Linked DNA regions of Homo sapiens: all the other regions are reported to be linked to region 1. Evidence: microRNA targets listed by miRTarBase, many of them from high-throughput screens and not tested one by one. Region 1 holds a microRNA gene; each other region holds the end of a gene's coding sequence. Distances are between the middles of the regions.
Evidence for each region. The annotated mature microRNA hsa-miR-4753-3p reads UUCUCUUUCUUUAGCCUUGUGU and lies in region 1 at 1,794-1,815, opposite strand. An mRNA with a match to its seed (bases 2 to 7 or 8) in the 3' UTR can be bound and repressed. Matches are read on the target gene's strand: a 7mer-m8 pairs with bases 2 to 8, a 7mer-A1 pairs with bases 2 to 7 and ends in A, and an 8mer does both.

Region 2: miRTarBase lists SPRY3 as a target of hsa-miR-4753-3p. The part of its 3' UTR that is shown has no 7-base or 8-base seed match.
Region 3: the mRNA of EXOC5 is a reported target of hsa-miR-4753-3p. The part of its 3' UTR that is shown has no 7-base or 8-base seed match.
Region 4: miRTarBase lists MTFR1L as a target of hsa-miR-4753-3p. Seed matches in the 3' UTR shown: 8mer at 2,654-2,661 and 7mer-m8 at 2,077-2,083.

What each region holds. Positions count from the first base shown.
Region 1 is chr1:235,188,247-235,191,384 of GRCh38, forward strand. It overlaps MIR4753 (microRNA 4753), which reads right to left and starts at 1,870; the gene lies at 1,788-1,870. All of the region lies in intron 19 of ARID4B (AT-rich interaction domain 4B), which reads right to left.
Region 2 is chrY:56,960,621-56,963,758 of GRCh38, reverse strand. SPRY3 (sprouty RTK signaling antagonist 3) reads right to left here. Exons shown (of 3, transcript NM_001394354.1-2): 3 at 1-3,138. The coding sequence ends at 2,501. Among named protein-coding and RNA genes, the nearest start is that of SPRY3, 39 kb to the right of the region's middle.
Region 3 is chr14:57,206,121-57,209,258 of GRCh38, reverse strand. EXOC5 (exocyst complex component 5) reads left to right here. Exons shown (of 18, transcript NM_006544.4): 18 at 462-3,138. The coding sequence ends at 650. Among named protein-coding and RNA genes, the nearest start is that of EXOC5, 61 kb to the left of the region's middle.
Region 4 is chr1:25,831,685-25,834,822 of GRCh38, reverse strand. It overlaps MTFR1L (mitochondrial fission regulator 1 like), which reads right to left. Exons shown (of 7, transcript NM_001099625.2): 7 at 1,885-2,902. The coding sequence ends at 2,797. It overlaps AUNIP (aurora kinase A and ninein interacting protein), which reads left to right. Exons shown (of 3, transcript NM_024037.3): 3 at 1-817. Among named protein-coding and RNA genes, the nearest start is that of MTFR1L, 13 kb to the right of the region's middle.

The DNA of each region.
Region 1 (3,138 bases):
AACACAATTTGCAAGTCAGAAAGCAGATAAATGAATGACGGGCACCAAAGAAGGCTAAACCTCATACCAGCAGTGAGGAAAGCCAAAAACCAACCCAGTTTACCATAGAAACCTCAATAATTACTGACTGCCCTAGTGCCTATGAAAATTAAAAAGGGCAGTGGGGAGCCTCATACAAGGAGCACTGGGTGAAGACTAAAAATTACTTAGATGCCTAGATCCCCACCTCACTTCAGGTTGGAAGGTGACTGCCCTTCTAGAGCTTTATTCTCTGAAGACAGTAGGAGAGGGCTCCTAGCCTGGGAGATGCTAACAACTGTTGAAGGCACAGGTACAGATGCGATGCTGAAATTAGGGGGATTCATGAACATATCTAACCACTAAGAATCCTCCACCCCACTCTCTGTTCTTCAACTAGATCCTAGAACACTGGAAACCATTCTCTTACCACCCTCCAGTCAAGAGATTGGAACTCTTTTCTCTGGAAGCCAACTAGTCTAAGAGAAAAAGACCTAAAGACTTCATATTATGAATTCCCTAGGACATGGCCAACCAGATCACCCGATAGTGAAACTCAAGGTCAACAAGTGCCAACCATATGCTTGCAATTTCCAAATCAGTTTAGTCTTTCCTTCATAATCATAAGACAGCCAGGAAAAAAAATTCTTAATAGGGAAGAGCTCAAAACAACAACACAGAAAAAAGCAAATTAGAGGTAACTGAAAAAACCAAAAATTATAAAATCCTTTGAAAGATCAAAATCCGAAAGGTAAGGTATTGCATCCATCTATAAGAACAGAGTGGTACAAAACACACAGAAAACAGAGCTCTTGAAAAATTAAACTAGTTTAATTTAAAAATATTCATTGAAAGGCTGGGCGCAGTGGCTCACGCCTATAATCCCAGCACTGTGGGAGGCTGAGGCAGGTGGATCACAAGGTCAGGAGTTCAAGACCAGCCTGGCCAAGATGGTGAAACCCCATCTCTACTAAAAATACAAAAAATTAGCTGGGTGCGGTGGCAGGCGCCTGTAATACCAGCTACTCGGGAGGCTGAGGCAGGAGAATCGCTTGAACTTGGAGGGCAGAGATTGCAGTGAGCCGAGATCATGCCACTGCACTCCAGCCTAGGCAACAGAGTGAGACTCAGTCTCAAAAAAAAAAAAAAAAAAAAAAAAATCATTGAAAACTTAAACATTACAGCAAAAAGTCAACAAAAGGATTAAAAGACAAAGCAGATAAAATTTCAAAGAAATAAAAAGACAAAAAAATTAATAAAAAGCAAGAAATTAAAAGGTGAGCATATTAGAGTATATTACAGAAGGTATAATATCAAATAATGGCTGGCCAAAGAAAGATAACAGCCAAGTGCAGTGTCATGCACCTATACCCCAGCTACCCAACTACTTGGGAGGCTGAGGCAGGAGGACTGCTTGAGCCCAGAAGTGTGAGAACAGCCTGGGCTGAACATAGTGAAACACAGTCTCAATTAAAGAAAAAAAAAAATTTGGCAGGGCTGGGACAGTAGCTCATGCCTGTAATCCTAGCACTTTGGGAGGCTGAGACAGGAAAATCGCTTGAGCTCAGAAGTTTGAGACCAGCCTGGGCAATATAGTAACACCTCATCTCAAAAATAGTAACAATGAACAAAAATTAAAAAGGAGAGAACAGTAAAATGCAGGAGAGGAAATCATCAAGAAAATCATTCAAAAAAACTGCCTAGAACAGAAAGACAGAAGTTGCTAGAATGAAAGAGTCTAGCAAGTAGGCATCACAGGGGATGAAAATATATCTACACAAGGCTAAAGAAAGAGAACAGCCAAGTGTACTGTGGATATATCTGTTCTCTTCCTTTGGCCTTGTGTAGATATATTTCAGAGTTAAATTTCTGGATACGAAAAACAAAGATTCAAGATTCCTAGCAGGGCATGGTGGCTCATGCCAGTAATCCCAGCACTTTGGGAGGCTGAGGTGAGTGGATCACTTGAGGTCAGCAGTTCGAGACCAGCCTGGCCAAAATGGCAAAACCCCATCTCTACTAAAAATAGAAAAACTAGCCAGGCGTGGTGGCAGGCCCCTGCAATCCCACCTACTCGGGAGGCTGAGGCAGGAGAAACACTTGAACCCAGGAGGCAGAGGCTGCAGTAAGCCAAAATTGTGCCACTGCACTCCAGCTTGGCCAACAGAGTGAGATTCCATCTCAAAAAAAGAAAAGAAAAAAAAAAGATTCCAGAGACAGAAAAGCAAAAAATAAAGAATAAAACAAGTCACATACAAAGAATCAGGAATTGGAAGAGCTCTGGACTTCACAAAAGCAATACTGGAAGCAAAAAAACAATTCAACACTGCCAATAAAATACTGAAGGAAAAACTTCCAATCCAGCCAAACTATGAATAGAATAAAGATATTTGCAAAAATAAATACAGATATTTAAATGCAGCCAATCTCTAAAAATTCCATCTCATGCACTTGTTCTTTAGAAGCTACTAGAGAATGTGCTCCACCAAAATGAAAGTATGGGGGTGGGGAGGAACCTGAGATGCCAAAAACAAAGAAATCCAAGAACTACATTAAAGGAGATCCCTAGAATGGGATCTCCCTAGGAAAATAGCTGTGCAACAGATATAGAGGGAAACCAGTCCAGACTACAGCAGTGTTATTTCCAAAGAAAGTCATACTGCAGGCTATTATCATTAAGCTACCTGCTACCGCCTCTCTGTAGTCTTTGAATGCCTGAGTGACCCAGACTGGATTTTAAAATCTGTATTTATCTTGTTTCAACTATGTGTCAATGAAATTCCAGCTCTCCCTTCCATGTCTTATGTGCCACTACCTAGATCAGCTAATGACATCATTTTATCCAGCAGAAACATTCTGACCTACTTGTGAAAAATAGGGGTAAATCACCATAAGCCTAGAATGAGAATATATATAGAGTAGTCTGCTACTACGACTGAGCACACTCCCACATAACATCCACTGCGAATGTGTCACATATTCTTTTTATTTTATTTTTTTTAAGATGGAGTTTCGCTGTTGCTACCCAGGCTAGAGTGCAATGGTGTGATCTTGACTCACTGCAACCTCTGCCTCCTGGGTTCAAGCGATTCTCCTGCCTCAGCCTCCCAAGTAGCTGGG
Region 2 (3,138 bases), not on the chromosome of region 1:
GTGTCAGAGAATCCTTAGATAACTGAGCTCTAAGCACATTTCAGGCAGAAGCAGAGAAGTGTGTGTTGCTACTCATCACCATCCAGCTTGACCCAGAGAACTGGGCAGAGCTTTTCAGGGTAGATAAGTGTAAAGTACAATCAAGCAGACTTGTAAGATTAAAAAGTTACTTAAAATTGAAGGATCTGAAAGCAACATAAGAGGTTACAGGTATTGGTTTGGGTTTATAAATGTTCCAAGAAGCCTAACCTTATATATGGCACCATTTGCAGCAATATCATTAACATTATTAATAATCATCATAACATATTTATATATACAAAAATAGAGCAAAGCAATTCTAGAAGAGGAGGTGTAAGTGAAGGTGTGGGGCTCTGTGCAGCCCAAATGTCAGTACACTTCAGGAAGATTCAGAACCAACAAAAAGTGAGTGGCACATATTTCTGTAATATGTATCCAACAAAGGGACATGGAGGTCCCCTCTTCCCCCCGTGTACTACTATACACTTCTCCCCACTTCTCCACCCTGCAACACACATCCATGCACACTCTAGAAGAGATGATCTATAAAGTTAGAGTCTGGAGGTCTTAAACTAAGTTGGAGCACCTTGATTTCAAGCAAGTGCCCTCAATCTCTGAATTCGTCAGTGAATTTTGGATTCACTTATAGAGGGAAACTGTATAATTCTTGTGTCTTTTAGCAGCAGTCTTTAGGAGCCTGCCATCACCACTGCAGCTTTTTCCCATTGAAGGGGGTTCACAGCACAGGCTCTCTGTACTTTTTAAGAGAGAAGTCAGTTCTCTACATTATACATCTTTCATCTCAGTTTTTCACTGTTGCTGAAATTTAAGTTCTCAGGCAGCTGCCATTGCAGACAAAGCCAGGAGCAAGCACAGTGTGTGCAGCAAAGAGTAGATGCAATGGCGAAGATACAGCTTGGTTAGGGCTTCTTTAAGCTTTTCTTTTCCACACTTGAGCTTCTACAAGGTGACAGAGCCAAAGGTGATGTCCACTGGGGGCAGCCTCAACACCTGATAGTTAATTAGCTACCCACCATGCACTGGAGAAAGACCACCACACTAACTAGGCATGGTTCCTGAAAAGTAATTGAATGGGAATGGCTTTCTGTCACTGTTAATAGAGCCCTAGGAAAAAGTCCCATGACTCAATGTGGTACAGGGGTAAGAATACTGAACTAGGAGTCAGAAGGCCTATATTCCAGTCTCAATTCTGCTGTTAACTCAGTGTGCGGCCTTGGGGGCAAGTCCCTTCCTACCTCCAGGCCTCAGTTTTCCCATCTGTAAAATAAGGGCATTGAACTAGATTAATAGTTAAGATTCCTTCCAGCTCTAACGTTTTATGACTTTTTATGTCCATTATTAACGCCTGAGCCATGCAGTCTCAGGGAAGTTAGCTTCTAAGAGAGAACATACCTCTGTATCCTTTGCTTTGTTCATTTAGCTATAAAGCACGTCTGCCTTTGGCACTTGGGTCAGACATACAAAGTTATGAGCATCCTGATTTACTATCCTACTCAGCATGCTAGTGGAATCTGTCAGCACTATAAGTTGATTATTGAGAAAGGGAGAAAAACTCCAACTAGTTAAACCTGGAAATATAAGATAACTTCGCCTCATGCGCTCACGAACAGGTGAGAGTGGTTGTGAGCACACACACACATCGGGATACACACTATTGCTAGTGATCAGTTCATTACAGTAATCCATTTCCCTTAATAAAAATTAGTAAATAGTATAGCATAGCAAAGTTTGGCATCTAAGGAAACATCTATGGAAAAACAGCACTTTTGGACATGTTAGAGAAAAAGGGACAGGTAGAGAGAGACAAATATAGATCAAATGAGATAGAAATACAGGCAGAGAAAGGATCAGTCTGAAAAAGAAGGAGGGGAGAAGGAGAAAGGGAGGAAGAAAGAGAAAAAGTAAAAGCAGACAGGGTGAGAATGAAGGGGAAAGGAATACAGAACAGAATAATGAAAGAGGAGAGAGGAATAAAGAAGAGAAGGGCAGTAACAGGGAGAAGGGGTCGTATTCCCTGGAAGGTTGAACGCTGTTCCACATGTACCTGTGAAAACCATCTTAGAAGAAAGCTTCCAAAGGCACAGCAGAAAACAGAGTGACGATCAGAGCCTGCATCGAGAGGTATTACATTGGGGAGCCCCTAAACCTCCACGTTGCTGGCCCTGTCAGTCCTCAGTGTTCAAACCTCATACCCATATATCACCTGAATTTGCCATGACAACCATAAAGGCTGAGCTGGCAGGGTGTAAAGACTGAAGAGGAGTGGGATAGATACTGTGAGAAAGAACAAGGCATCCTGCACCAGGATGTACTTGGTCATTCCCCTGACACTGCAGGAACAAAAGAGAGGCCCTAACTTTGGCTAGTTTATCACTCCTCCCCCTCTCCAAAGATGAGGCCTATGCTTTGCTGTTGGGGACTCGAAGGAGAAAAGCTCTGGATCCACCTTGTTGGAAGGTCATACAGACTTTTCCTGGGCCTTGGGGAAGGGTGCACTACCAGAAGAGATCTTTCTGCACACAGTGTTGGTGTGCCTCTTGCAGCGGCAGCCTGGTCGCCGGAGGCTATCATAGCCCTGTTGGCACAGATGGAGGCATCCACGGGTAGGCAGGTAGCAGCACAGGCAGGGTAGGAAGAGGGAGATGAGGCTCATGGCTGCCCAGCGGACAAAGCAAGAACTAGGCCCACAAGAGCAGGGCTCATCAGCACAGTTGTCTTCATCATCAGTGGAGCAGTGGTAGAAGAGGCCCTTGACACAGCAGAGACAAGTGCCATAATCGAGGAGGCTCTCAGCAGAGCAAAGGCAGCGCTGGTTGCACAGCCAGCAGGAGGGGAGAGGGCGAGCTGCTGTGCAGGGGACGCACTTGCAGCGCCCACATTCCTCACAGATGAAGAGGTGCTCACTAGGGTGCCCTGCAGATTGCTCAGCTTCTCCCTTCAGAGCACCATCAGCCTTTGGGTGGACCCCTGCTCCAGGTTGGGTTCGGATGATGGATTGGCCTGAAGGTGAGGGTGTAATGCTGGCCAAGAGCCTTTGATCAGAGGCAGTGGTGCTATGGGACATTGAGCTGGCAATGCTAGATTGGCTCAGATGCT
Region 3 (3,138 bases), not on the chromosome of region 1:
CACCACATCTGGCCCATATATTTAATATTAAACCCATTTTTGCTTTATGGTGTATTTTCAGTTCCACAGTCTTTGACTTATTGACATCCATGACTAATGTTATATATGTCACACATTAGGAAAAAAATGTTGTCTTCATTTATGTCCCCCTGAATATTTCTGTAACATTTAAATTATGAAAAATGCTGTATGTTAATAACTAGTTTTAGTCCTCTGAAGTATATATGATTGTTACTATTGAAGAGAATTGACACATGAATCTTTTTGAAATATTATAGCAAGTTTATTTAACTACTGAAATCTTTAAGTTTTAATGCATTGTGATCTTTAAAAAATTCTAATATGTTGAACTTCACCCACACTAGTAAGTCCCACCTGACAGTATGTAAAAAGTTACAAGCTAATTGTAAAACTGGAAATTGTTTTGTTTCAATGTTACTTTTTTTCTTCTCTCAATTCAGATTCCAATGGTATTACATCTTTTTGATACTCTGCATGCTCTTTGCAATCTTCTGGTAGTTGCCCCAGATAATTTAAAGCAAGTCTGCTCAGGAGAACAACTTGCTAATCTGGACAAGAATATACTTCACTCCTTCGTACAACTTCGTGCTGATTATAGATCTGCCCGCCTTGCTCGACACTTCAGCTGAGATTGAATTTACAAAGGAATTCAGTGTCAGTTCCTTTACAGAGGAATGTCTTATACTTCAGCAGCCCTCGGTTGATAGAAAGCACAGGAGATACCTTATGACACAGCCAACATTTTGTGAAACAATGACTGGAACAAAACAGCAGCCATACTTACCTTTGAGGTTTTATTTAAAGTTTGGATACCACTAGCTATATTTTGCTTTTTTCCCCTCACATTGAATTTTAATTCCATTCTTGAATGTAGAAATTTCAGATTCTCTAAAACTACATGTCACTGTTTTTATCCTAGAAAATGTTGCTGTCAGAAGGCAAAGGAAATGTTACCAGTGTTTTCGGTTCTTGTACTTTTAACATATTCCATTTAGAAATTTTGCCATTCTGTTTTCCATTAATAATAGGTGAAATACAGGAAAACTACATTTGTTATTCCTCAGTTTTTAATGACCTTTTCAGCATCAATTGTTAATCAGATTATTTTAGGTTTTCGTAAATAATTTTTTTGCCTCTTTCAAAAGGTTAACAATTAAGCATACTTTCTGCAGTTGGTTGATTGGATTTTTTTCTGAGGTACAGCATTAATACTAGTCCAAAAAATGTCATAAACTGAACTAAAATGATGAACTATTTTATGTAGACATTAGGAGTGGATCGGAATACTTCTGCTTTCTGGGTAAAACTTAAAAGTTTACTATTTCTTATTTGGTAAATAGATTTTAAGCCAATTCTAGTAAGAAATTAATAAAACTACCTTATTTTGTATTTCACTTAAGGTGGAGGACCTTAACTAAAGGACCATATTTATTCATTATTTTAATATTATAAGGGAAGTAAAAAAAAGTGAGGTATAGTCTAAATGGTGCATATAGGAAATACTGACAGTGTTTAGCAACATGCAGCCCTTTGAGATTTCTGTCGTAATGCTAAACTTGAATAAGATGGAATGGCTGAACATGTGGTTAGTCTTTTATTTTAAGAAGAATTGAGAATTGATAGATTTGGAGATGAGCTTTGCAAAGGCTGTTTGCTTTTCATGTCTATAGGTCTGTCATTGTCCTTTTTCAAAGCATTTCTGAAGTTATTCCTACTTGGATATAGTTAATGGAATTGGCTTAATTTGATGACATAATAAATCACTTATAAAATTTTAAATATCAAGTGAAAATTTAGAAAGGCCATTACTATTCTATAAACCTTATAAACTTGCTCTGGGAGAATGCATTCTAAATTATATATAGTGTTTCAGCTCCCATTGTGGTGTTCATAGTCTTCTAGGAACAGATAAACTTAAGTATTCAATTCACTCTTGGCATTTTTTCTTTAATATAGGCTTTTTAGCCTATTTTTGGAAAACTGCTTTTCTTCTGAGAACCTTATTCTGAATGTCATCAACTTTACCAAACCTTCTAAGTCCAGAGCTAACTTAGTACTGTTTAAGTTACTATTGACTGAATTTTCTTCATTTTCTGTTTAGTCCAGTGTTACCAAGGTAAGCTGGGGAATGAAGTATACCAACTTCTTTCAGAGCATTTTAGGACATTATGGCAGCTTTAGAAGGCTGTCTTGTTTCTAGCCAAGGGAGAGCCAGCGCAGGTTTTGGATACTAGAGAAAGTCATTTGCTTGTACTATTGCCATTTTAGAAAGCTCTGATGTGAATTCAAATTTTACCTCTGTTACTTAAAGCCAACAATTTTAAGGCAGTAGTTTTACTGGCCATTTAAGCTCTTTGTACAGTGTCAATTTGTAAAAAAGAAAAAACGAAAAAAAATCTCAAATAAAACATGAGATAACATTTTAAGACTTCCAAATCAGAGAAGTGCTTCAAATTATTTTGTTTGGATTAATTTTTAAAATGTAAAGCATATACTTGTTGCTTAGTTATTTTGTTTATTATTTTCATGTTTGAGTTCTGTGCAATATTTTCTATTATGTCCGTTGATAGGACAGTGACAAAATTCGTAAGTGAATACTTAATTTAAAAGTGTTAACATTAATGCTCAATAAACAAATTCCCTGCAGTTGTTTTTTTTATTTCACTCTTTTTATATTTTAGAGCCATCCATCCTGAATTTTATAAATGATTTTTTATTTAAAAATTTGAGATTTTTAAAATTTTTCACAGCACAGGTCTTCTCATTTTCTTTTTTAGCAAAAAATACTTGACTATATAAACAAGACTAGAAATTTATCCTAAACAGATGGTCTTTCTCTGAGGGAAAAAAAAAAATGTGTCATGTGAGGCAATATGCATTCTTTGTATTCTGATTTTTTAAGTGTTTTCATATTTATAGCCATCACAAAATTTTGCCCAAAGTGTATGGCTCAGAAGAGATGATCAATAACTAAAATGTTTTTCGTTTTGCACATGGTAAAATTTTAGGTAGAGAGTGGAGCTTTGTATAATTGGTAACTTTAACCAACATTTACGTAAGTACGGTCTTTGCAGTATTACACAATACCGCATGAGCTAATATGCAGTATTTAGGTAA
Region 4 (3,138 bases), 210 Mb from region 1:
CAGTGGGATTGGCATCATGGCTTTCCCTCAGGAAGGTGGTGGCTGGTAAATTCCCTGAATGAGTCTATGATGAACACTGAGGCAGCACAGTGGGTATTTATCTCTATGAAAGTGCCTTTTACTCAGCCTGCACAGAGCCATCTCTTTGCCCTTCCAGATGTCTGACTGGGACCTTGCTTATGGATGTGTTTTTTTTTTTTTTTTTTTGAGATGGAGTCTCGCTCTGTTGCCAGGCTGGAGTGCAGTGGTGCGACCTCAGCTCACTGCACCCTCTGTCTCCCGGATTCAAGCGATTCTCCTGCCTCAGCCTCCCGAATAGCAGGGACTACAGGCATGCGCCACCACGCCCAGCTAATTTTTTTTGGATTTTTAGTAGAGACGAGGTTTCACCATATTAGCCAGGATGGTCTCCATCTCCTGACCTCCTGATCCGCCCACCTCAGCCTCCCAAAGTGCTGAGATTACAGGCATAAGCCACCGCGCCCAGCCAGATGTGTGAGCTTTTAATCTCTGGCTGATCTTAACCCACATCAGCCTAAGCTTGGGATGATTACTCTTGACCCTTTTTTTTCAGTGATTAGCAAATCTCCCCACAACCCAGGTGTGGAGAGAAGAGAGGTAGAATGGTGCTAGTTTCCTATTTTATTTTTGTGGTAACTGTACAGCACTTTAAAGTTATATACTCTATGTTTAAATATCTCCCTTAAAAAGCCTGAGCTGTACAACAATCTGGATGTGACTCTGTTACCCTTTTCCCACAAGATAGGAGGGAATCCCCTTTGTAAAACTATGAATCCAAATAAATGTTTACAAAGTGGCTCTTGTGATAATTGGTAATTAAACCATTACCAATTTTATTTTTGAAAAGGCAACACTGTAATAGTATATGCTGTCATTGCCCTGAGCCTGATCTGAACCAGAGTCTAGTTTGACCTGTCTTCTACCCAAGGCATTATTCCTTGTTGTTGATGTGGTATCTAAGAGGCTTAAACAACCTCTAAGGGACAAACTTGCAAGGTTATAAGAGAACTGCTTCTTTTTTTTTTTTTAACTTAAATTTTATTTTTTTGAGACACGGTCTCGCTCTCTTGCCCAGGCTGGAGTGTGGTGGCATGAACACGGTTCACTGCAGCCTGGACCTCCTGGGCGCAAGTGATTCTCCCACCTCAGCCTCCCGAGTAGCTGAACTATAGGCACATGCCACCATGCCCAGCTAATTATTTTTAAAATATTTTGTAGAGATGAGGTCTTGCTTTGTTGCCCAGGCTGATCTTGAACTCCCAAAGTGCTGTGATTAGAGGTGTGAGCCACTGTGCCTGGCCTAATTTAAATGTTAAATTCTACTTTTATCGTGTATGTCATCTCTCCAGTCATTTTCCTGGAAGACCTGCTTTTAAGAATGTATGGGGCTTAGTGCGGTGGCTCATGTCTGTAATCTCAACGCTCTGGGAGGCTGAGGTGGGAGGTTTGCTTGAGACCAGGAGTTTAAGACCAGCCTGGGCAACATAGCAAGACCCCATCGCTACAAAAAAATTTAAAAATTTCCTGGGTGTGGTGGTGCATACCTGTAGTCCCAGCTACTCAGGAGGCTAAGGTGGGAGGCTCACTTGAGCCCAGGAGTTTGGAGGCTGCAGTTAGCTAATGATCCCACCACTGCACTCCGGCATGACAGAGCTAGATACTGTTTCTAAAAAAAAGAAAAAGAGTATAGGGCAAAATCTCTACAGAAAGGGGGAAGAAACCCCCTAGAAGGGCAGGACCTTATAAGGAAAGAGGAGAAGCCAGTAGCCTGTTTAAGTTCATACACCTTAAAATTAACAATAATCCTATGCCCCTGAAGGATACTGGGTAATCGCAACTCAAGAGATGGACACAGCAAATGCATTCTCTCTCCAAGTCCTTCCTTTAATGTCAGGTAGTGCTTCAACCCAAACACAAGCAGTATACATACCATAGAGAAAGGGACCTGAGGGCATCTGAGTCATGCATGGTGTGGTACATACAAACCTTGGCCCAGCCCAAAGGAGCAGTCAAGGGCCTGGAAGAAAGATGGTTTGCTCTTTCCCCCTCCTCCTCTCTCTTTCCTACCGGGCTTAAAGTCCGTGGAAGAGAAAGTTTTTAATCAGTGGAACTGATAAGGCCTCAGGGCCGTGGAGGGTAGATTTGGTTGTTCAGTAATATAAAATGTGTTTAAGAAAAAAAACAGCCCAGGCTTCCCAGCAGTAGCCCATGTGTTGGCTGGTTCAGCAGCCTGACCTCTACATCTAGACAAGGAAGTGAGGAGGGTGATTGCTGGGCATTGGTGTAGGTTTATGACGGAGCAGCATAAGATTTTCCGTGCCCTGTGAACATGTATACAAACATTCATAGCCCCTTCCCCTCAGCCCTGCTCTGCTGCAAGGAAGCTGCTGAGTGAGTGACAGCTGGGCACAAAGTGTCTTGTGAGACCAGCTATAGGGTCTAATGCAGTGAAGTCAGTCATTTAGGACCTATTTTCACACAGGGGCAAGGAAAAACCAGAAACAACTTCTCTCTTACCCTTTAAACTAAGATACTTCATTCTACACGATTACCTGAAACAAATGTCTCAGGTCAAATCACAAGCCTTAGCTTCTGCTAGGGTTTGAAGTCTGGGAAATATATAATCCAGCTCTTCTCTTTCAGTCCAAGCTCTAGCTTGTCAGCAAGACTGTTGCAGAAGATCTATCCTTAAGAGGCAGAAACATCTGCGGTGAGGAAGGCAGCTATTGAAGGTATTCCAGGAGCATGAGACTGAGTTTGCAGAGCTGAGGGTTGTCAATTTCCTTTTCTACTGATATCTTCTTCCTTTAGAGCAAACTTCCTCCTTAGGACCTCAGAGATAAGCACAGCAGGGTCTTCCTCCTTCAATAAACTCCGGTTCCTAGAGACACAATAATAGCTTGAGTACTTACTCTTTCCTGTGTAGTGCTGTATATCTTTTGAATACATTATCTCGTTGAATCCTCACAACAATCTTACGAGGTAGGTGCCATTACAATTCCCTTTCACAGATAAGGAAATTGAAGCACAGAAAGGTTATACAAGTTGCCCAAGGTCACTAGTCACTCAGCAAGTAAGCGGTGAATCCAGAGTTCAGAACCAAACTAGCTGGTTCCA